Linked DNA regions of Homo sapiens. The protein of the gene in region 1 purifies or fractionates together with the protein of each later gene. This does not show direct contact. Each region holds a gene or a part of one and is shown in the gene's direction. Other genes may lie near its edges.

Region 1 (3,500 bases):
CCCCAATCAAGTGTTTTACTTTGGAAATGACAGGAGATCCTTATTAAAAGTCATGCTTCTTGGATAGAGATGTGGCAGCTTGCATGTATATGATGGCACAGAAGACAAGCTGCCTTTCGTTAAAAGCAATAGAGGAAATCAATTTTGGCAGAAAATACTCCAGACTGTGAAGTAAAGACTGAAGGAAAGAACTGAAGAGCATCTCACTTATAGCTGATTGGAGATTCAGTCAATCTATTTAATAAATGATTATAATCTCTTATGAGCTGTAGGTAGTTTAGGTACACAAGTTAAAAAGTAAGAAGACTTGTTTGAGCATGAATATAGAATTACAAGCTGTTTATAATGCATCTCAAACAACAGGAAAACAAGTGCAATGAATTTCAAACTAAAAACACAAATTAATCCCTGAAAAGCAGCCACCTGTATAAGTCACTGTGTAAGTGAAATGACATATTGTGTGAGACATAAATGTGGAGAGATGATTGGAGACAATTCAGGGTCATTTCTGCAGGGAATAACAACCACATTCATAAAGATTTTTTTATATTTTAGAAGCTAAATTCCTGATTATTTTCCCATGTCCTTGCTATTCACTATCATAAGAAAAGAGGAGCAATTTGAATTTGTTGAAGCAGTGAAAAAAAAAAAAGGAAATATTTTGAGTAAAATGCAGACCTGATCTTACACTTTGCATTTCTATCCTTTTTTCCCCCTGTTCAAAGCATTTAGGTCAGGTTAAAAAAAAAAAAAAAAGAAAAGAAAAAAGGATCCCAAAATAGGAAATATTCTCAAAGAACTTGCAGTTTGTTCATTTAAACCAACTAGATTACAAAAACCACTAATAAAATTTGTCAATAATTTGATTATTATAATGCATCTAAGATACGTATTTGAGAAACAGACAATTTAGGGTAAAAAAATGAGTGGGAAAGTACTTTTTTCTTTTGATGAAAAAATTAAGAGAATCTGCTCACTTGTAAGTCAAATGGCAGCATCGGCAACTGGAATAAATAATTAACCTTACATTTTACCTACAGGAAAGGGTCAGCTAATTCTAGATTTCCGGTGTAGAACACTAGAATTTCCTTGTTAACGCTTAGTCAAGGGCATAAAAATCCCAGGACGCTGTTTCAATAATCGATGGGCCGACAAATGTCAATACTTCAGTTACCCATCATTGAAGGAAAAAATGACAAACATTAGTGGCGAGCCTTCATTTAGGAGATTTAGCCAAGTAAAACGTCTAAAATATCCTATACAAATGTTAAACTACAGGGGATGGGGTGTGGAAGCAAAAGCAGAAAGTGTACATATCTTGGGAATAATTTAAATAACTTCCTCTTCTATTTTAAACGAATCTACTAGGATTGTGCATATGCACATCTCACTGATTCCACTGGTTGCAAATATATTTTCAGAGGTCAAATTCGTCAGTCTTTAAGTCCCAAGCCTTGTAATAAAATGATACCATGTGATAACAACTGGAATGCAGTCATATTATGTTCTTTTGTTTGGCAATAAAAAACAATAAAACATTTTAAATAAAACCCTTCAGGTTATTGCCTCAGAATCTGTTGAAGTAGAACAGGCTTTTCTCTCTCCCATTCTCTCTTTCTCAAACAAAGTCTGTAAAAACATGTTTAATATTTAGAAAATACATAACCATTCTCCAAAGACAGACACATGCTTTCAATTATACATACAGGTAATTATTAACTGTCATCTTTAATCTTGTTTCCTAAGAATTCTTTGTACATGATTTAGCCTTTTAGAAGTAAAAGTCATTTCCCATTCCATTGGACAGCACCATTAATTAGAGTACAGGCTAGTTCATCCAAAGTTTAGTAACTTACCCGTATTCACCCAGTACATTACATTTCAGATAAGATGGCCTGTGTATTTTGATGTGAACACATCAGCACATATTAGGTCATTTGGCATGGTAGGAGGGGGGTGAGGGGATGTGGGCTAGGGTGGGCAGGTGCGTGATATTGCTAGTATGCTTATACCTGTAACTACTGGTTCCTTGCTTTTTAGTTTTTACCACATAATGTGCTGTCAATTTAGGTTCTACTTATGAGTCACCCCATGTCTTAGAATGTATTTTAAATATAAGGTTTTGCATATTTGCATTCTATGAATAATGTATAAGCAGGAAGAAATCCAATTGGCAAAAGCACACCACTTCTGGGATAATTTATAAATCCAGAAAATTGTCTATTTGGATTTAATAATTTTTCTTATGGATGTGGAAAATATTAGCACCCATACAAATTTACCTATGTATTTAGAGCTTCTAACTGAGACCATCCTCATGTCCCTGTCCTGTAACAAACACACATATATCTGTTTCATCTACACACTTAAATGTATCATTTTGTCTACTTTCCTGTTCTATAATATTGGATGTCCTTGCAAAACCTTATCTTTGATGCACATGGGATTAAAAACTGTCCTATGGAATGATGAGCTAGAGGGTGTTGGGAAATGAGAAATAAGATGGTAAGGAATATATTTATATATTTCCTCTAATTTCATATAGATCAGGGGAGCCTGTTGAGGAGTGTCAAATACTAATGGCTTATTCTCCTTGGATTTCAGATTCAAGGCCTCTTCCAGATGTAGCCCTGACTGGGAAGTGCACTCGTGAGTGTGATGAGTATGGCCACTCAGACTCCTGCTGGATGCCGGTCCGCACTTCTCCGGAGAGGAAGAAGAGCCAGCCTAAACTGTCCACTTTCATGCCTGTTGATGAACGAGGAAGCCAGGAAAAGCTGGCCAATGGGGAGGCCGCCATCATGGGTGACCGCAACAGAAACCTCCTGAACAAAAAGTTGACCTCATCCTATGAGACCTTCAGTGCAGCTAGTTTCAGCAAAAATGAGGAAGCCAACCCTGAGGATATTCCCCTTACAAAAACAGGGGAATATAAGCCATCTCCTGTCAATACTCTCACTAGAAGAGAAGTTTACCTGTAGGCTATAAAGGAGCAACAGCAAAGTTCTTTACATGTATGAAAAGGAGAATAAGGGGCAAAAACCTTACAAAGCAAAACGTTTAATCACAAAGAGGGGGCTACCAAAGAGACAAAGCTTTGCCTGCCACTTCTGCCTCCAGATCAGGCCTTTAGTGATACTGTTAGCCTGATTCTACTGTACAATGTAGAAACCATCCTTGTTACTTGCATGTCTAACCCCTTCACTGATTCCCAACACTCACTTTCTCTTCCCCACCCCTCTCCAAAAAAAAAAAAACAAAAAGAAAAGAAAAAAAAAGGGGGATAGTTGCAAGTTTCTTTCACAGTAACTGTACGAAGCCTGATTAGCAGAACACAACACACCCTCATTATCCCTAAGCTGAAGCATGATTTTAGTCACTTTGATTTTGTTCGAGTGTCATCTGGCTGGTCAAAAATAAGCAGGACAGATAAAATGTATTTCAGACATACCATCAGAAAATGGTTTATCACCATCAAAGGCAATCCTTTGAAAGTGATA
Region 2 (3,500 bases), on another chromosome or scaffold:
ACTTTAAGTATAAATAAACTTAACATTTTTGTTTTGAATTTGAATGCTTCTATTTATTTACTTATTTTTCTAAGTGTCGTCTCTGGAGAGGATTGAATGCTTTTAGATGGGTGATACTCTCTAGTTCATCTCAGTCCTATTGTTGTCAGACATACCCTGCTATATTAATGTCTTCAATTTTTATCTTTCTCTGAATTTCCTTCTAATTCTAAACAAGTTATCCAATATTAAAAGCAAGCCAAACACAAACAAATCTAGTGTTAGACCATACTACCTTGTACCAGTTTCTCACTTTTCTTTTAATATCCAACTTCTTTGACTCCTGATGTCTAACTTATTGCGTCCACTTTCTTGCTACCCAGCTTCTGAGCTCCCCCATTCCCGTTAATAGTTTTAGCATAACTTTATGTTTAAAAGCATGTTACTTTTTGCTTAAAATTTGGCATTTCTTTTCCTTACTCTTTATAGCATATTGTGTTAACTACCTGGAAAACTCCAGGTTTCATATCTCACCTTGAAAACTGAAGATCCAGCTTAACAAACACTTTCCTTGGCTAGCAGAGTTAATTGCTGCTTCATCTATACCCTACTGAACTTTTTAAATCTTTGTTTTAGTATTTGTGATGTCTTATTTTAGCTGTTTGTTTGTCATCCCTGCTAGATCTTGAGATCTTAAAGTGTAAGGATTAAGCCTTTTTATTTGTTTTTAATTTGGAGACAGGGTCTTGCTTTTTCACACAGGCTAGAGTGCAGTGGCACGATCATAGCTTACTGCAGCCTCAACCTCTTGGACTCAAGTGATCCTCCCACCTCAGCCTCCTAAGTAGCTGTGACTATAGGCATGCACCACCACGCCTGGCTAATTTTATTTTGTTTTTTATTTTTTTGGAGATGAGGAGCTTGCTATGTTGCCCAGGCTGGTCTTGAACTTCTGGCCTCAAGTGATTGATTCTTCTGCCTCAGCCTCCCAAGTAGCTAGGATTACAGGTGTGAGCTACCATGCCCAGCTCAGGATTAACTGGATTAAGTATATTCATTTTTGTCTCCTGTTTCTCTACCATCAACATATCACCTGCTATAAAATTGGCATTCTAAATACTTGAATTTAAAGCTCTTGGATTTTTATTCATCAATATCTTTTATATTATAACTTCCCTTGTATTCCTATTACTACCAGCTTAGTTTAGGCCCCAATAGCCTCACACTTTGCATTTGTAATAGCCTATATTCTAAGGCATAGAATCTGTGCTCTAGTCTTTCTTCCTTCATTCTAATGACATGCTTTTCAACTTATTATTACCCTGGTTACCCCCCTTCAGATGACTTATTTTAACCCAATTGCAGAAGTTTACATTTATCCATATTAGTTTGGTTTACGATTGCAGCCTATAAAAATAAATTCATCTCATAATTTGGTCATTTGTTGGGTCAGCCATGCCTCCCAGCTTTCTGTCATCTGCAAGTTTGATAAGCATATCTTTGTGTCATCATCCTAAAATAATGGACAAGACCAAGGACAAAGCCTCATGTTCGTCTTCTCTTTCTTTCTTTTTTTTTTTTTTTTTCTGAGACAGTCTTACTGTGTCTTCCAGCTGGAGTGCAGTGGCACGATCTCGGCCCAATGCGTCCTCCACCTCTCGGGTTCAAGCGATACTTGTGCCTTAACCTCCCAAGTAGCTGGGACTACAGGCACATGCCACCATGCCCACCTAATTTTTTGGTATTTGTAGTAGAGATGAGTTTCGCCATTTTGCCCAGGCTGATCTCAAACTCTTGGCCTCAAGTCATCTGCCTGCTTTGGCCTCCCAAAGTGCTGGGATTACAGGCATCAGCCGCTGTTCCTGGCCTGTTCCTCTAAGGGTCTTCTTAATAGTTGACATCATCCTGTAATCTCTCTGTAGTATCCCTTAATATAGAGGAAGTCTATGGTCTGGAAATATAGGTAAATACACATAATGTTGTTTAGGACATCTTTATTCTGTTTCTAGACTTAATGGATACCCTACCCTGTATATTTGTATTTATAGTTGCATATTTATAGTTGGCACTGATAGTTTTGCATTTGATTGTTTCACGTTCATTAATTTTTTACAAGTATTAATAGGTTATAATAACCTCCCTATTTAGCATGTACATTGTTAAACATAAGTGTTCAGCATATAGTAAATATTTGTTGATTAGAATAATCTATATCATGTCTACATTAATATTTAGCAATTTTAAGCATTTCTCTTTTATGTAATGTTATTTTAAAAATTATAATCAGTATTGTAAGGAATTCTGTTTATAGAATTTTAAAGATCTTATTGCCTTTTTAATAGTTTTTTAAAAATATGGCATCTTAGTTGAAAAAAGCAGCTTGCAAAACAGTATATATGGTAAAATCCCATTTTTGTACAAACAATACCACCAAAACATAATGTACAAATAGAAAAATGTTTGGAAGGATATAATTCTAAATGAAATATTAACAGTGCCTCTTTTTTATTGTTTTGCTGAGTGATCTTTATCTTTTTTATATTTTTTATCTGTCCTTTTTTTGTTGCAGTGCATCCTCATTACTCTTATAATCAGATAAAAAAAAAACTTTTTTAAAATGGTGGTTTAGTTAACTAACATATTGTGACTTTCATTTCCAGAAAAGACTTGATGGAATCTACATGGATGCAGCCTGAAAGATTGAGCCCACAAGTTCACCATTCTCAACCACAGCCTTTTGCTGGAACAGCTGGAAGTTTACTCTCCCATCTCTTGAGTTTAGAGCATGTAGGAATTTTGCATAAGGATTTTGAATCTATTTTACCAACCAGGAAGAATCATAATATGGCTTCAAGGCCATTAACTTTTACACCTCAACCATATGTGACCTCACCAGCTGCTTATACAGATGCCTTGTTAAAACCTAGTGCCAGCCAATATAAGAGTAAACTGGATCGTATTGAAGCCTTGAAAGCAACAGCTGCTTCTTTGTCCAGCAGAATTGAAAGTGAAGCCAAGAAATTAGCTGGGGCCAGCATTAACTATGGGTCAGCATGGAACACTGAGTATGATGTGCAGCAGGCACCTCAAGAAGATGGACCTTGGACCAAGGCTGTAACTCCACCTGTGAAAGATGATAATGAAGATGTTTTCTCTGCCAGAATTCAGAAGATGCTGGGAAGCTGTGTATCTCATGCAACTTTTGATGATGATCTTCCTGGTGTAGGCAATCTTAGTGAATTTAAAAAGCTTCCTGAGATGATAAGACCACAGAGTGCCATATCAAGCTTTAGAGTGAGATCCCCTGGTCCCAAACCAGAAGGGCTACTGGCACAGTTATGTAAAAGGCAGACTGACTCTTCTAGCTCTGATATGCAAGCCTGTTCTCAAGACAAAGCCAAAATATCTCTTGGTTCCAGCATAGATTCAGTCAGTGAAGGGCCTCTTCTTAGTGAGGGGAGTCTCTCTGAAGAAGAGGGAGACCAGGATGGACAGCCCCTTTTGAAAGTAGCAGAAATTTT
Region 3 (3,500 bases), on another chromosome or scaffold:
GAAGGAAGAGCTAAAATAGAATTTTTAGCACATCTGCACAATAATATTCAAGAATTCAAGGCATCTAACAGAATAACAGTTTCCCCTGAAATGATTTCAGGTAATTTCTCTGAACATATTTTAGGGCAATAAAAATATTATAAATCTTCTTAAATTAGTTTAGCTAAAGCTTAGCCCTACCACACTGTTTTATTTTCCATTTCACAGTGAAATACACCATTATATATACATATATGAGAGAGAGACCATTTCATTGACCACATGCATGGCTATAGAATTCTCTTTTTATTAGCAAACTGAGTTCTGCACCCATTTTGCGGTATGGGTTGATGGCTCAGAAAGAAGCGCAAGTTTTCTTTTTAAAATAGCAATTCCTAAATGCCTTTGCAGCAAATAAACTTGTAAATAAGAGCTTTATTTCCTTCCTTTTTATACTGTTAAAGGAAATCAGACATTAGTATTAATGAATTGCTCTGAGTGATCACGTCATGAATCTATTAGTTTTTTTTATCTTAATTAAACAGTTAATTTAATGCTTTGTGGCTTGTGGGTAGATTGTTCTAGCATTTTTGGTTGGTCAATGACTCCCAGAGGTCTAATAGGCCTGTATCTTTTAGTTTTAAATGTAATGTTAGTCTAAAATAGATTCAGAAAGAAGTTGATTACTTCATTCTTGAAGGAAGTAAAACAAGGAAGATCTGGTGTCTCTCCAACAAATATTTTTTGAAACTTCATTTTGAAAAAGCAGAAATGAGCTGGTTTCTCAATAGATTTATTTATTTAGTCATTTCATCATACCTCTATATCTATTTTTAAAATCACTATGTAAATGGAAAAGAACTTGTATGGTAGAATTATGCGCCCAAATGACTATTCATTGATACAATGACTTGCTCTCCAAAGTATTATTTAAGTTAGCAAGGGCAGATTCTTTAGTTTGGAGGATTATTACCCACCTCTCACTGGGTAACTGTCTGTGTCAAATTTTCCTGCTTCTACTACCAAACCTCAGCCAATTTCCTAAATTTCACGTAAGTAAATCTATAAAATTCACTGTCCATATTTATCTGCCAAATTAGTGAACTGTAAGATGAAGATGAATAAAGAAAAGCCTGTAAGAATTATGGAATTTCAGCAATGGCTTAGTTGAAATTCAGCAAGAGAATTTCAGTTGAGGGCTTAATGTACATTTAACACTTTGTTGGATGCTAATGAGGTGAAAAACATATTCTACAATACTTCCCTAAGGAAACAAATAAGTACTGTTAGACAGTAAAGGCAATTCAATGTAATAATGTAGTTTTGCAATTTATGGTATAGGCAACATTGATTTCTCTCTTTCCTACTCTCTCACTCAGGATGAATGAAGAAAAAAATGGTCCAGTCATTTGCTTAACTCAGGCCTCAGTTTCCACAACTCCAAAATGAGAGCCTTATACTAGGTAATCTTTCTGTAAGGATCCTTCAAACTAACCTCTTTGTTATAAACAGATACAGAATACAGAAACCACTGAGGTTATATGACTGACTTCCCTAAGGTTACAAATATAGAGTCACAAATTGTATAATATATAAAATGGGGAAGAGAACATGGAGAAAACTCCCACAAATTTTATTAGGTTGGTTCAAAAGTAATTGTAGTTTTCACCATTGTGGTTTTCACCGCAATTACTTTTGCACCAACCTAATTCAGAATTTAAAAGTGAAAAACATTTGAATGCTGAGAAGATAATACATTGTTATAAAGTAATTTGAATTTTTACCATAGATTTATACTTTACTTTGGGTAAGTGCCATTTTCAGAAAGGCAGCCAAATTTGTACAAACATAGTGGATATTCTGAGTCTCTTGATTGAGAATGAAGCAACAAGATCAAATAAAAGTTCATTTGTTTCTCTAGTATAATACAGAATACATTTATCACAACACTTATAGAGTGAGAAATTATTAAAAAAACACTCTATCCCTTCTCCCAGATTTCTTTAATTTCTTATGATAATTGAAATAATGCTTGTCCTTCCTACCTTGGATTCATTCGTGGATAACTTTTCTTAATTATTCCCCATTTCAGTCCATTAATACAGCTTCAGAATTATTTCTGAAAAATGTTGTTCAAATGTGCCACCTTTTAAATTCCATTGTGATTATAGACTCTTAGGGTTAGTAATTGAAAGCTCATTTCAGACAACTCCCTATCTCATGTTTGAACTCTGCACATCTCCCACTCTCTTTACAATGGCACCAAATAATGCTACCCAATTCCTGGGCAGAGCATAGATAAGGCTAAAAGTTGTCAGCTACCAAAGTAGCTGCTGAATATCAGAATGAAACCCAGGGACTCTAAAGTGGGTTATGAAGTGATGAGCTTCAGCTAACAGGGAACATTAGGAAATGACTGCAGACAAATCCTCATGCTTAATTCAGAGAAAGATGTACGGTTTGATTGGAGGGGGTGAGGAAGAAGGATATCATACAGACTATAAAGCCAAGAAGCAATGCTTAGAATGCAAATGTGTTATAATTTTGTGTGTGCAGTGTAAAAAGACTACTGGCCATATTTTAAAAAGTCATCTAGGTTACACTCACATACTTAAGAACACCAGAATTTCCATTTTAAATTTTAAGAAAATAGACATAATTGTTTGCACCTCTTACATGGCACTTAGCACATTGTATTACATTGTTTTTTCCTTAGATATGGAGTCTTGCTATGTTGCCAAAGCTGACCTTGAACTCCTGGGCTCAAGCGAACCTACTGCCTCAGCCTCCTGATTAGCTGGGACCACAGGTGCATGCCACTGCACCTGGCTTCTATCGCATTTTATTTTTATTACTTGGTTTTTAACTTATACTTTAGAGGCAGGCCTGGTGTTAAAGGTTTTACATGCATCACGTCACTTTTAAATTTGAGTCTTATCTTTCCTACTGGATTATAAATTCACATGGAACAAAGATTATAATTTATTCATGTTTATACTCCCCAGCTACCGTTTGCATATATCATTACATATTGTGGCTTCTCTCAACATATATTTGCTGAATAATTAATATACAAAAAGACACAAGCACTGTGGGAAAGGTATTTATAGTGCAAATTTGGAGTTAACTAGAACCTAAGTTCTAGTCTGTTATAAGCCTCTATGTCCTCCTCCGCCAAAAGAGAAAATCAGACTGGATGGTTACTGAGATAATTTCAAATGCTACAACTTTAAGAAAATATCAACAGTTTCTAATTCTGAAAATCCACTTCAAATAATAATACTCAGGTAGTTGATTTTATGCCCCAGAAGATTAATGGTTATGACTCTTCAGCTACTTAAGTAATTCTTATAAAATCTCAAGTCAATATTCACTTCAGGTCTCTAACTTGTCATTTTCCATTCACTCCAGTGCCCTACATTTGAAATGATTCATGTCTTAAAGATTTCTGAGTGATTGAAGACATGTCTTCTTTTTGTCTTTTGTTATTTAAAGTAAATTTAAGATATCTTTGGCTATTA
Region 4 (3,500 bases), on another chromosome or scaffold:
TTTTAAAGTTGATATCTAAATCTTTCATTGTAGTTGCAAAGCATGTAATTTCTTGGGGGAGGGGGGCTGTAAATATTGACATTTTAAAATAAAACTTTTAAATCAGCCTTAAATGTATCAAATGAAGTATAAATATTATTGCTTTTTCATACCCACCATCATTTATATACAGCTCAGCTCTTCTTTAACAGGCAAAAATTATATATCATTTCCCTTTCCTCCTTGAATTCCTTTGTTGTACTTCTACAGAATTTCAGCATAAGATGATATATTTTGTTTGTTTGTTTGAACTTCTCCCTGAGATGATATATTTTTATTACACATATTTTCAAATATTTTATTGAGTAGCTTATCATGCTTATCTGCAACAAAAATGACAGGGGCAACAAGCTAGGCCCTATTTTCTATAAATTGAATTTTTAAGCTTTTTATTAAATCTCAAAGGATGAAAATATCTTCTATATTGAGTTTTCACAATTATTAGAATATATAATTGATCAAAACAAATGTTACAAATTTTAATTAAAAATTACTTTTTTTTTTTATACCTAATGCTAAATGACGAGTTAATGGGTGCAGCACACCAACATGGCACATGTATACATATGTAACAAACCTGCATGTTGTGCACATGTACCCTAAAACTTAAAATATAATAATAATAAACAAATATTAAAATAATAATAATAATTACTTTTTATGTTTACTTACAACGACTTTAATAAGAAAGATGAGATTTTTTCCCTATACATTCACATATCTTTGGGTCGACATTATTTACTGCGTGAATGAAACTGTTCCTTTTCTATCCCTAATTTTTTTTTATAGTTGATAAAAATGGAAAAACCCCAATATTCTTTATGATAGCAAATTAAAAATAATAGAAATACTTTGAGTTTGGGAATAGAAGATATATTACAATAGTGCCACTCAATTATTTTGATTCCTTCTTAATTACATGACAAAAAATCACAGTGATGTATCATCAAAAATTATTTGTAATGATCATCCACTATCAATGTAATTTTATGAAAGCTAAAAATTTGGATTTTTATTAGAGGCATTTACATTCACCACAGACACCAGCATTTTGTTTGCCTCTCCTCTTCTCTGGGTTTTTTTTTTTTTTTTTTTTTGCCTCATGGCAATACACCACAGTAGGATTTGGCTGGTTAGGAGATACGCCTTTCTTTTGTAAAGTAGATAAATAATTGTGAAAGGGGAATTAGAAAGGACAGGTGGAGTGATTCCTGAAAACCAGCCTAAGCCTTGACCACAAAGGCATTCACAGACATATAATTTTTAAGAAAGAGTACACATGGAAGTTGAAGAGCTAGAAATTGACTCTCTTAAAACTATCCTTGCGGCCGGGCGCCATGGCTCACGCCTATAATCCTAGTACTTTGAGACACCGAGGCGGGTGGATCACCTGAGGTTGGGAGTTCCGAGACCAGCCTGGCCAACATGGTGAAACCCCATCTCTACTAAAAAGACAGATTTAGTCAGGTGTACTGGTGTGCGCCTATAATCCCAGCTGCTCAGGAGGCTGAGGGCAGGAGAATCACTTGAACCTGGGAGGTGGAGGCTGCAGTGAGCCGAGATCAAGCCACATGCCCTGTCAGGTAGGCTCAGGAACACATGGGCCCAGGTTGGAAGAGCACCATTTATATAAAACACTCTAATGAATAGTCGCATATTTGTCTAGTTATTTCATCAGGATAAATTCCCGCTCATAAGAATGATAGGTTTAAAAGTATGCACATTTTGACAGTGATGCCAATATTCCCAAATTGTGATTGTTGACAATCCCGGAGAGTCAGTGACATTGTTTCCCATACCCTGACTTCATTGGGATAGTCTTTTTTCATTTTACACCTGCTTGAATTCCTATTATTACCATTGAACTTTACCATTTTTTTTTACATGATTTCATCTATCTTTCTTTGTACTTTTGTATTGGAGTATTCTTGACAGGGTCTCACTGTCGCCCAGGCTGGAGTGCAGTGGCTCAATTATAGCTCACTACAGCCTTGAACTCTCAAGCGATCCTCCCATCTCAGTCTCCCGAGTAGCTGGGACCATAAGCTAGTGAGACCACACTCAGCTGATTTTTAAAATTTTTTTGTAGAGACAGGGTCTCGCCATGTTGCCCAGGCTCGTCTTGAACTCTTGGGCTCAGATGATCCTCCTCAGTTTCCAGAAGTGTTGGGATTACAGGCATGAGCCACTCCACCCGGCCCAGTTTATTATTTTAACCTCACTTATATGTGTTTGCCATACAGATGAATGTTTGTTTTAATAGTGTGATCTAGCCAACTTTTGCATGGTTTCTTATCATGCTTACCAAATTTTATAAATGCCATATTATTCCTCTATATTATATAAAAATTCATTCATGTGTTATTTCTAGTACTTTTGTTTTTTTACATGCAAATATTTTATATTCAGGTATAGTGAAGATTTTTCTGATATAGTAGATTACATGTTTAAATGCTACAGTAGTAAAACTACTAGTACTATACTTACCAAAGGGTTTAACATTTTGGGAAAAACAGAAACGGGCAAGTAGCAGTATAACAATAACTAACTTACCTTCTAGAGAATTGGCATTGTTTTTCAATTTTTTTTTTCTTTTAGAGAGAAGGGTTTCACTCTGTCACCCAGGTAGGAGTGCAGTGGCACAATCATAGCTCACTGCAACCTCGAACTCCTGGGCTCAAGAAATCCTCCCACCTCAGCCTCCCAAGTAGCTCACAGGCATGAGCCACCTGTGCCTGGCTCAATCTCTTTTTTTTTTTTTTTTAATAAAAGACCTGTCACTGAGGTAGTGGAAGTGCCTTGAGTACCATCACCAACATCGTTTCCTCTGTCATGTCCCTCTCAACCCTAGAAACATCCATTATTATGAGGTTAAGTCTCCAAGTTTCCTTTTTTTTTTTTTTGAGACAAAGTCTCCCTCTGTCACCCAGGCTGGAGTGTAGTGGTGTGATCTCTGCTCACTGCAGCCTTCACCTCCTAGGTTCCAGTGATTCTTCTGCCTCAGCCTCCCAAGTAGCTGGGATTACAGGTGTGAGCCACTGCACCCAGCCCCTTCTGGTTCATTTTTTATACTCTTTCATATGTACTCCTTAACATATGTTTCTCCTTGGTGAATTTTTAAATTAAAATGGCATATCATGGCATATAATAAGAATGTCCTACAAACCAGGGATGGTGGCACGGGCATGCAGTCTCAGCCACTCAGGAGGCTGAGGCAGGAGGATGGCTTGAGCCCGGGAGATCTGACACTGTAGTATGCAATGATAGTGCCTGTGAATAGTCACTGCACTGCACTCCAGACTGGGCAACAAGCTAGACCTCATCTATTTTAAAACTTTTATATGGTGCTGTTTTTATATTTGGGTTTTTTTCTTTACAGTATTCCACCCTGTGAATAAAAAATATTCTATGTATTTATTACCCAGTTTTAGGTTGTATTCAATATTCTGCTGTTATTAACA
Region 5 (3,370 bases), on another chromosome or scaffold:
GTCAGGGCCCATAAATGATTTCATATTTCTACTACATATTGTGTGTATCCTTAAATAAAACACAGTATTTTAGATATTCATAAACTTTGTAAGTGGTATCATGCTGTTTGTATCATTCCATTAGGTTGGTGCAAAAGTAATTGCAGTTTTTGCTTTTTTTTTTTTTCTCTTCAATGTTACGTTTTTTTAAAATTTGTCTATGTTAAAAGAGGCAGTTAGAAAGTTGGTATTTCATTGAATAGCCACAATATATCATTCTCCTATAAATGAAGATTTAGATAGTATCTTACAAATGATACCACAATGAACATTCTTGAAAATGTTTGTGCACTATATGAGTATCTTGAGGTTAGTCTTTTCTACTTTAGTTTTTATTTTTCCACTGTTGTAATCATGCATTGTTTATAATTTGAATCTGCTTTTTTTATATAACAGGTTTACCTGTATCATTTCCTATTTTTTGTAAACATTATTGTTAATGTTTATTTTTATTGCTATATACCATAATTTACTTAACCATTCTCCCATTATTAGATATTTATATTGTAACTTTCACACTATTATGAACATTTTTGTATACAAAGATTTTTCATATTTAAGATTATTTTATTAAGTTAGATTCTCAGGAAGGAATTTACTTAGACAAAAGGTAACATTTTTAAAGTTCATGTTGCCAGATTTCTTTGTAAATATTGTGCCATCCCATTAACAAACAACTTCCACTCAGGGGAATTGTATTCTTTCTGCCTTCCATTTCAGGCCATTGCAAACCAACCCTGGGCTCAGAAACTTATGTTTAACAGTCCAGGTTTTGTAGAATATGTGGTGGACCGGTCTGTGGAGCATGACAAAGCTTCAAAGGATGCCAAATATGAACTAGTGAAAGCACTTGCCAATTCCAAGACAATTGCAGAAATCTTTGGGAACCCAAATTATTTGAGGCTCAGAACTTACCTGAGTGAAGGGCCATACTATGTGAAACCTGTTTCCACGACAGCAGTAGAAGGAGCCGAATGATTTCTTCTAGAGCTCATGTAGAGGACCACGTTTTGACCAAAACTTCTCCTAAGGCATTTGACTCCATCTATATTTCACAAAAGAGACTTCCTTTCCCCAAGAATTATCATGGAATGTCAGATGTTACTTTGTTACCAACACTGTTATATTTCTACATTGAAATGCAAAGTGGAACTAGGAGTTTGGAATGCATTAAGAGCAGACAAGCTTGGTCATAATAGATCCAGTGTTTTTCAGATTCCTTTCACTGCCTTAATCTTTGCAACAGGGTGGAAGTTTTTTTCTTCCCTCAAAATTTTCATGGACATGCAATCTTATCTAAAAGCCTGCTTCAGGGCTGGGCGCGGTGGCTAACACCTATAATTCCCAGCACTTTGGGAGGCCAAGATGGGCAAATCACTTGAGTCTAGGAGTTCAAGACCAGCCTGGCCAATATGGCAAAACCCTGTCTCTACTAAAAATATAAAATCAGCCAGGCATGGTGGCGCACACCTATAATCTCAGCTACTCAGGAGGCTGAGGCACGAGAATCGCTTGAGCCTGGGAGGCAGAGGTTGCAGTGAGCTGAGATCTTGCCACTGCACACCAGCCTGGGCAACACAGCAAGACTCTGTCTCAAAAATAAATGAATAAAATAAAAACCTGCCACCAAATTATTTCTGGATTCTCTTCACTATCTTTTTTTTTCTTTTTGGTCCTTTTTCCATTTCTGATTCCACTTTCAAAGTCTTGGATATATTCTTTGAAAAATGAGTAGTATGGAATATTAAGATTATGTTCCTTATACTCAGAATACTTTTTATGAGCTCTCTTGTTTTTTTGTTACTATTATTCCTTTGAAAAAAAGACAAAATATCTAAAAAATGTTTATAGTGTTCATGTAATTTTTTTTGCTGTTTACCAATGAACTTTGCCCTGTTGTGGTTTTGGGGGATCAGAAGGATTCCTAAACTGTCATTTCATTTATTGGTAGGTCATGATTGCTGAGGGTTTTGCTTTGGATTTTTCATACCTATAAAGTCAATCTTGAGTTGATCAGAGAAAGGGAAACTTACTCCTAATAAACAGACTCAGAACAGAAGGGACATATGCATAAATCAGGATACCATCTCATTAATTTACAAAGGATAATCTTTCTTTTCATTGACAACACCTACACCCACCTGTTTTCCAGTGTTCTTCTCTCTAAACAGCAAAGCCAAAGCACTCTGCACACCAAATCACCTGTTCAGAGGTTTATGCATGAGCATATTTCTTTTAGGCCGTGGTGAAGTTGATAAACCACCCCTGCTTTGTAACAAAATTATTTTAAAGTGACTGGAATTATCTAGTCCCCAGATTGATCATCTCCCCTGGCAACGTGACTCTGTTTTTTGTGTGTGTTTCCATGCTGACTAGTCCCCTACTGTTAATATCACTACTAATTAGGCTATAACCAGGTCTTTCCTGGCCTGAGAAATATTCTCTTAAAATGACCTTTGTTTTAATCTCATTCATGATGTTGATTTTTTTTCAATGTGGTGCAATATATACAATAAAATTTGTCATAACTATTTTAAGTGTACAGTTCAGTATATTACATATGTTCATAAGTTGTACAACCATCACCACCATCCATCTTCAGAATTATTTTCATCTTATACAATTGAAACTGTATTCATTAAACAATAACTGTCTATTCCCTCTTTTCCCCAGCCTCTGGCAACCACCATTCTGCTTCATGACATTGATTTTATTCACTTAACATCAGATTTTGGGGGGATGCCCTCTCTCCTATGTATGGTCTACACATTCTGATTTTTTTTTTAGATTGAATAAAATTTGTAAATCATTATTTTCATTTCATAAGTAAACACCTGTTGACTGCCTATTATGTTCTTGGGATTGGGGAAGGTGCTAGACATTGGCCTAAGTGCCAAGTGCATCTCATTTAATTTTTACATCCCTGTTTCACAGATGAGGAAACCAAGACTTTAGTAGCTTATCTGAAAATCACACAAGAAGAAAGTGTCTTATATTGGAAGAAAATAGGTCAATAGAAAATTAGAGAGTATAAGAAGTACAATAATAGAGGAAAACAGAAAACACGTCCCCTGACTTTAGGAAATGTTTTCCAGGGAAGGAAACACCTGCATCTTGAAGAACTAGTAGGAGGCAATCAAGTGAAGAATACAGTGGAGTAGCAAAGCAAGACAGCAGGTACACATGAAAACAAGAGAACATGTTTGAGAAACTACAAGTAATTCAATATGACCAACGCCTAGGATTTAAAGGGAAATTTTTGCAAAATTCTTTATCATTATTACTAATAATAGCTACCATTTCTTAGCATTGATTTTATGTTAGGCACTTG
Region 6 (3,500 bases), about 57 Mb from region 1:
TTTTTATTCAATGATAAATAAAATGAGCTAAGTGTGGTGGTGCATGTCTGTAGTCCTAACTACTCAAAAGGCTGAGGTGGGAGGATTGCTTGAGACCAGAAGTTTGAGGCTGCAGTGAACTATGATTACACCACTGCACTCCAGCCTGAGTGACAGAGTGAGACTTTGTCTCTAAAAAATAATAAAAAATAAAGTAAAAAACCATTCTTAGCTCATAGGTGAACAAAGATAGGTGGCTGGCCCTATTTGACCTGTGGGCTATAGCTTAATGATTCCTGATTCAGGGTTTATGATTTTGTATGTTGTTTTAATTCTGAGTTCTTGAAAATTGAGTTGTTAAAATGTTTTATGACTCTCTACTGATAAATCTTGAATCTGTTGCTTTACAGCTGCACTTTGGCTTGAACTAGTTATTTCTTTACATGATTCAAACTTGGCCTCTGATAATGCATCTTCCAAAGGTTGTATTTGGAAAATCTTAGAATGAATGGATTATCTGTATGAGAAGATTGCATGTTCATTTAAGGTGCCAAGGGTTTTCTGAACAGCTCAACTTGGAAGCAGATGGGGTCTGTGCACTCCATTGTGCACTGTTTAGTTTGCCTGTTTGTTTTCCTTTCTTTAATGCCAGAAAGAATAACACAGACACACCTTATAAAAGCATGCCAAGGTTACGGGATTGATTATTTTGTCAATATGTTTGAAAGCTGACTTTGAAAACATTTTTAGAACTTTGAAACTTTTAGGAAACATCTTAATCATAATACTCAGTGTTAGTATAAGATAACAAGTTTGAATGAAAACTTGACAAAGCATTTGGAATGTTTAGTTTGAAAAGTCTGGGCCGGGCATGGTGGCTCATGCATGTAATCCCAGTGCTTTGGGAGGCCAAGGCGGGCAGATCATGAGGTCAGGAGTTCGAGACCAGCCTGGCCAACATAGTGAAACCCTGTGTCTACTAAAAGTACAAAAAATTAGCTGGGCTTGGTGGTGGGCGCATGTAATCCCAGTTGCTTGGGAGGCTGAGGCAGGAGAGTTGCTTGAACCTGGGAGCTGGAGGTTACAGTGAGCCGAGATCGCGCCATTGCACTCCAGCCAGGGCAACAGTGCGAGACTGTCTCAAAAAAAAAAAAAAAAATCCTGAATTGAATATTCTTAAAAGTTTTACTGTGTGAAAACGTAGACTCTTGTATGCACATTCATGCATGCCTGTTGATACAGTCATCTGCATTTATTTTGGAAGCTTGGTCTGTTGAAGTATATTCTGAGGGTAATGAAAATATGCCAGCATAATGGATTTCCCCCCAAAATTTCTAAGTGAATTTTAAAAGACAGCTCATAAGTAGAAACATTGGAATAATGTTCTTTCCAGACTAGGTTCTTCACAAACTAGTTATCACAGATGATGGTACTGTTTTTGCAGTTCGGTTTGCTTCATGCCAAAAGTGTCCTTGATCAGTTACTTTAAATCTTGATACCATTAGACTGTTGCAGTATTGAGATTTTGTTTTTTTAACTTTGAAGATTCCAAGATATGGTAGGATATTTTGTCTTCTTTAGATTACCATTTCTTATTTTTTTATTCTTATTTATTTATCAATTTATTTTTTGAGACAGTATCGCTCTGTCGCCCAGGCTGGAGTGCAGTGGTATGATCTTGGCTCGCTGCAACCTCCACCTCTAGGGTTCAAGTGATTCTTGTGCCTCAGCCTCCCGAGTAGCTGGGACTACAGGCGTACACCACCATGCCTGGCTAATTTTTTTGTGTGTGTTTTTTTTTAGTAGAGACGGAGTCTCACCATGTTGCCCAGGCTGGTCTCAAACTCCTGAGTTCAGGCAATCTGCCCCCTCGGCCTCCCAAATTGCTGATATTACAGGCATGAGCCACCACGCCCAGCCCATTTCTTGTTTTTTAATATTTAACTCACGAGTAAATATAAATAGGATTTTCTCAGATAAATTATATCATAACGTAACCCTTAAATTAACCCTTTGCTTATTGAAGTGTCCTTAAGAGACCCTTTATCCTAGAAACAAGATTGGTGTTTGTCCAGTCTCCTTAGGAGCTATAGAAATCAATTGAGTGGTGAAGATAGGTGAGAACAGCAAAGAATTGGCAGCTTAGGTCTGCAGCATTGGCTATAGGCCTCACTGGCTGAAGCGATGAGGAAGCAGTGACAGGAGATGGGTAGTGGAAGCATGCAGTGTGTGCACAGAGAAAGCCGGCCAAATGCTTTGGTGACAGTGACAATGCACTTTTCCAGTGCAGGCATGGACTCCCTAGAGGTTGGATAGGCAGGCTCCATCTCACCCCTATTTCCTCACTGTGCAAAATTCCATTGTTAGAATTTTTTTAATGTGTGCTTTAAAATTTTTATTTATTTTTAATGTTAAGAATAAAGATATCCTGTTTTCACTTTAACCTCTTGAAATATAAAATGACTCATGTTCATTGGCACAAAGGTTGAGAGTTCAGTTCAGGGTCAAAACTCTTAGGCACTTGGACTTTGCTTTGCTACATACTTGCATTGCTCTGCTATCCTGTGTGGTATTCACAAGCTCAGTAACCTGAAGCAGACCCTGAACTGACTGCTGGGTGGTGCAATGGGAGGAAGTCCAGCTTTTCCAGCAGTGTGCTTTGTGTCCTACCACTCTCCCCAAAGCACAGATAACTTAATTTTTAACTTAGGAAGCAGTCTAAATAATGTATGCTGTTTTATTTTCTCCCAGGGACGTTGGCCAAGCCATTGAGTGTTTATCTTAATGGAGAGATCTGATTATGTAACCATATATTATACTAATAAATGGTGTGTATAAGTTTTTATCTCTAATTGAAACTCTTCCCCTTTTTTTGCATTTTTCTTTTTGAAAAGATCATTGTCACAGTCGTACTGGGACTGGTTATAGGTGCCATTTACTTTGGGCTAAAAAATGATTCTACTGGAATCCAGAACAGGTAAGTAAATTTGGATCTTGATTTTCAGAAAATGCTGTTACTTTCTTCAAGCTTATTGAAATCCATTAAGAATTTGAATTTAAGACAAGTATAGTGTAAATGTCATTCTTTTATTGAGGGTAGGATGAGTCAGTTTATTTTTGAGACAGAGTCATGCTCTGTTGCCCAGGCTGGAGTGCAGTGACGCGATCTCAGCTCACTGCAATCTCCGCCTCCCGGGTTCAAGCAATTCTCCTGCCTCAGCTTCCCAAGTAGCCTCGACTACAGACATCCACCACCACGCCCAGCTAATTTTTGTATTTTTAGTAGAGACGGGGTCGCACCATGTTGGCTAGACTGGCTTCGAACTCCTGACCTCAGGTGGGTCCACCCACCTTGGCCTCCCAAAGTGCTGGGATTACAGGCGTGAGCCACTCCACCTGGCCCAATTATTTTTAAATGTACAGTTCAGTGGCATTAAGTACATTTACATTGTTATGCAACTATCACCACCATCCAACTCTAGAATTCTTTTTGTCTTCTCAAGTGGAATATCTGTACCCAT

Evidence for each region.
Region 2: the proteins of PCDH7 (region 1) and CEP350 purify together in Homo sapiens (affinity purification with mass spectrometry; one large-scale study listed by BioGRID and IntAct). This does not show direct contact.
Region 3: the proteins of PCDH7 (region 1) and HTR2C purify together in Homo sapiens (co-immunoprecipitation; one large-scale study listed by IntAct). This does not show direct contact.
Region 4: the proteins of PCDH7 (region 1) and TUT7 purify together in Homo sapiens (affinity purification with mass spectrometry; one large-scale study listed by BioGRID and IntAct). This does not show direct contact.
Region 5: the proteins of PCDH7 (region 1) and PSMD5 purify together in Homo sapiens (affinity purification with mass spectrometry; one large-scale study listed by BioGRID and IntAct). This does not show direct contact.
Region 6: the proteins of PCDH7 (region 1) and ABCG2 purify together in Homo sapiens (affinity purification with mass spectrometry; one large-scale study listed by BioGRID and IntAct). This does not show direct contact.

The regions. Positions count from the first base shown.
Region 1 is NC_000004.12:31,139,869-31,143,368, forward strand, and holds part of PCDH7 (protocadherin-7 isoform d precursor), read left to right. Parts: intron 1-2,604; coding exon 2,605-2,981; 3' UTR 2,982-3,500.
Region 2 is NC_000001.11:180,017,310-180,020,809, forward strand, and holds part of CEP350 (centrosome-associated protein 350), read left to right. Parts: intron 1-2,639; coding exon 2,640-3,500. UniProt on the Homo sapiens protein: Plays an essential role in centriole growth by stabilizing a procentriolar seed composed of at least, SASS6 and CPAP. Required for anchoring microtubules to the centrosomes and for the integrity of the microtubule network.
Region 3 is NC_000023.11:114,590,586-114,594,085, forward strand, and holds part of HTR2C (5-hydroxytryptamine receptor 2C isoform a precursor), read left to right. Parts: intron 1-3,500. UniProt on the Homo sapiens protein: G-protein coupled receptor for 5-hydroxytryptamine (serotonin).
Region 4 is NC_000009.12:86,291,911-86,295,410, reverse strand, and holds part of TUT7 (terminal uridylyltransferase 7), read left to right. Parts: exon of another isoform or gene 1-113; intron 114-3,500. UniProt on the Homo sapiens protein: Uridylyltransferase that mediates the terminal uridylation of mRNAs with short (less than 25 nucleotides) poly(A) tails, hence facilitating global mRNA decay. Essential for both oocyte maturation and fertility.
Region 5 is NC_000009.12:120,815,553-120,818,922, reverse strand, and holds the end of PSMD5 (26S proteasome non-ATPase regulatory subunit 5), read left to right. Parts: intron 1-759; coding exon 760-1,017; 3' UTR 1,018-2,870; downstream 2,871-3,370. UniProt on the Homo sapiens protein: Acts as a chaperone during the assembly of the 26S proteasome, specifically of the base subcomplex of the PA700/19S regulatory complex (RC).
Region 6 is NC_000004.12:88,106,640-88,110,139, reverse strand, and holds part of ABCG2 (broad substrate specificity ATP-binding cassette transporter ABCG2), read left to right. Parts: intron 1-2,873; coding exon 2,874-2,956; intron 2,957-3,500.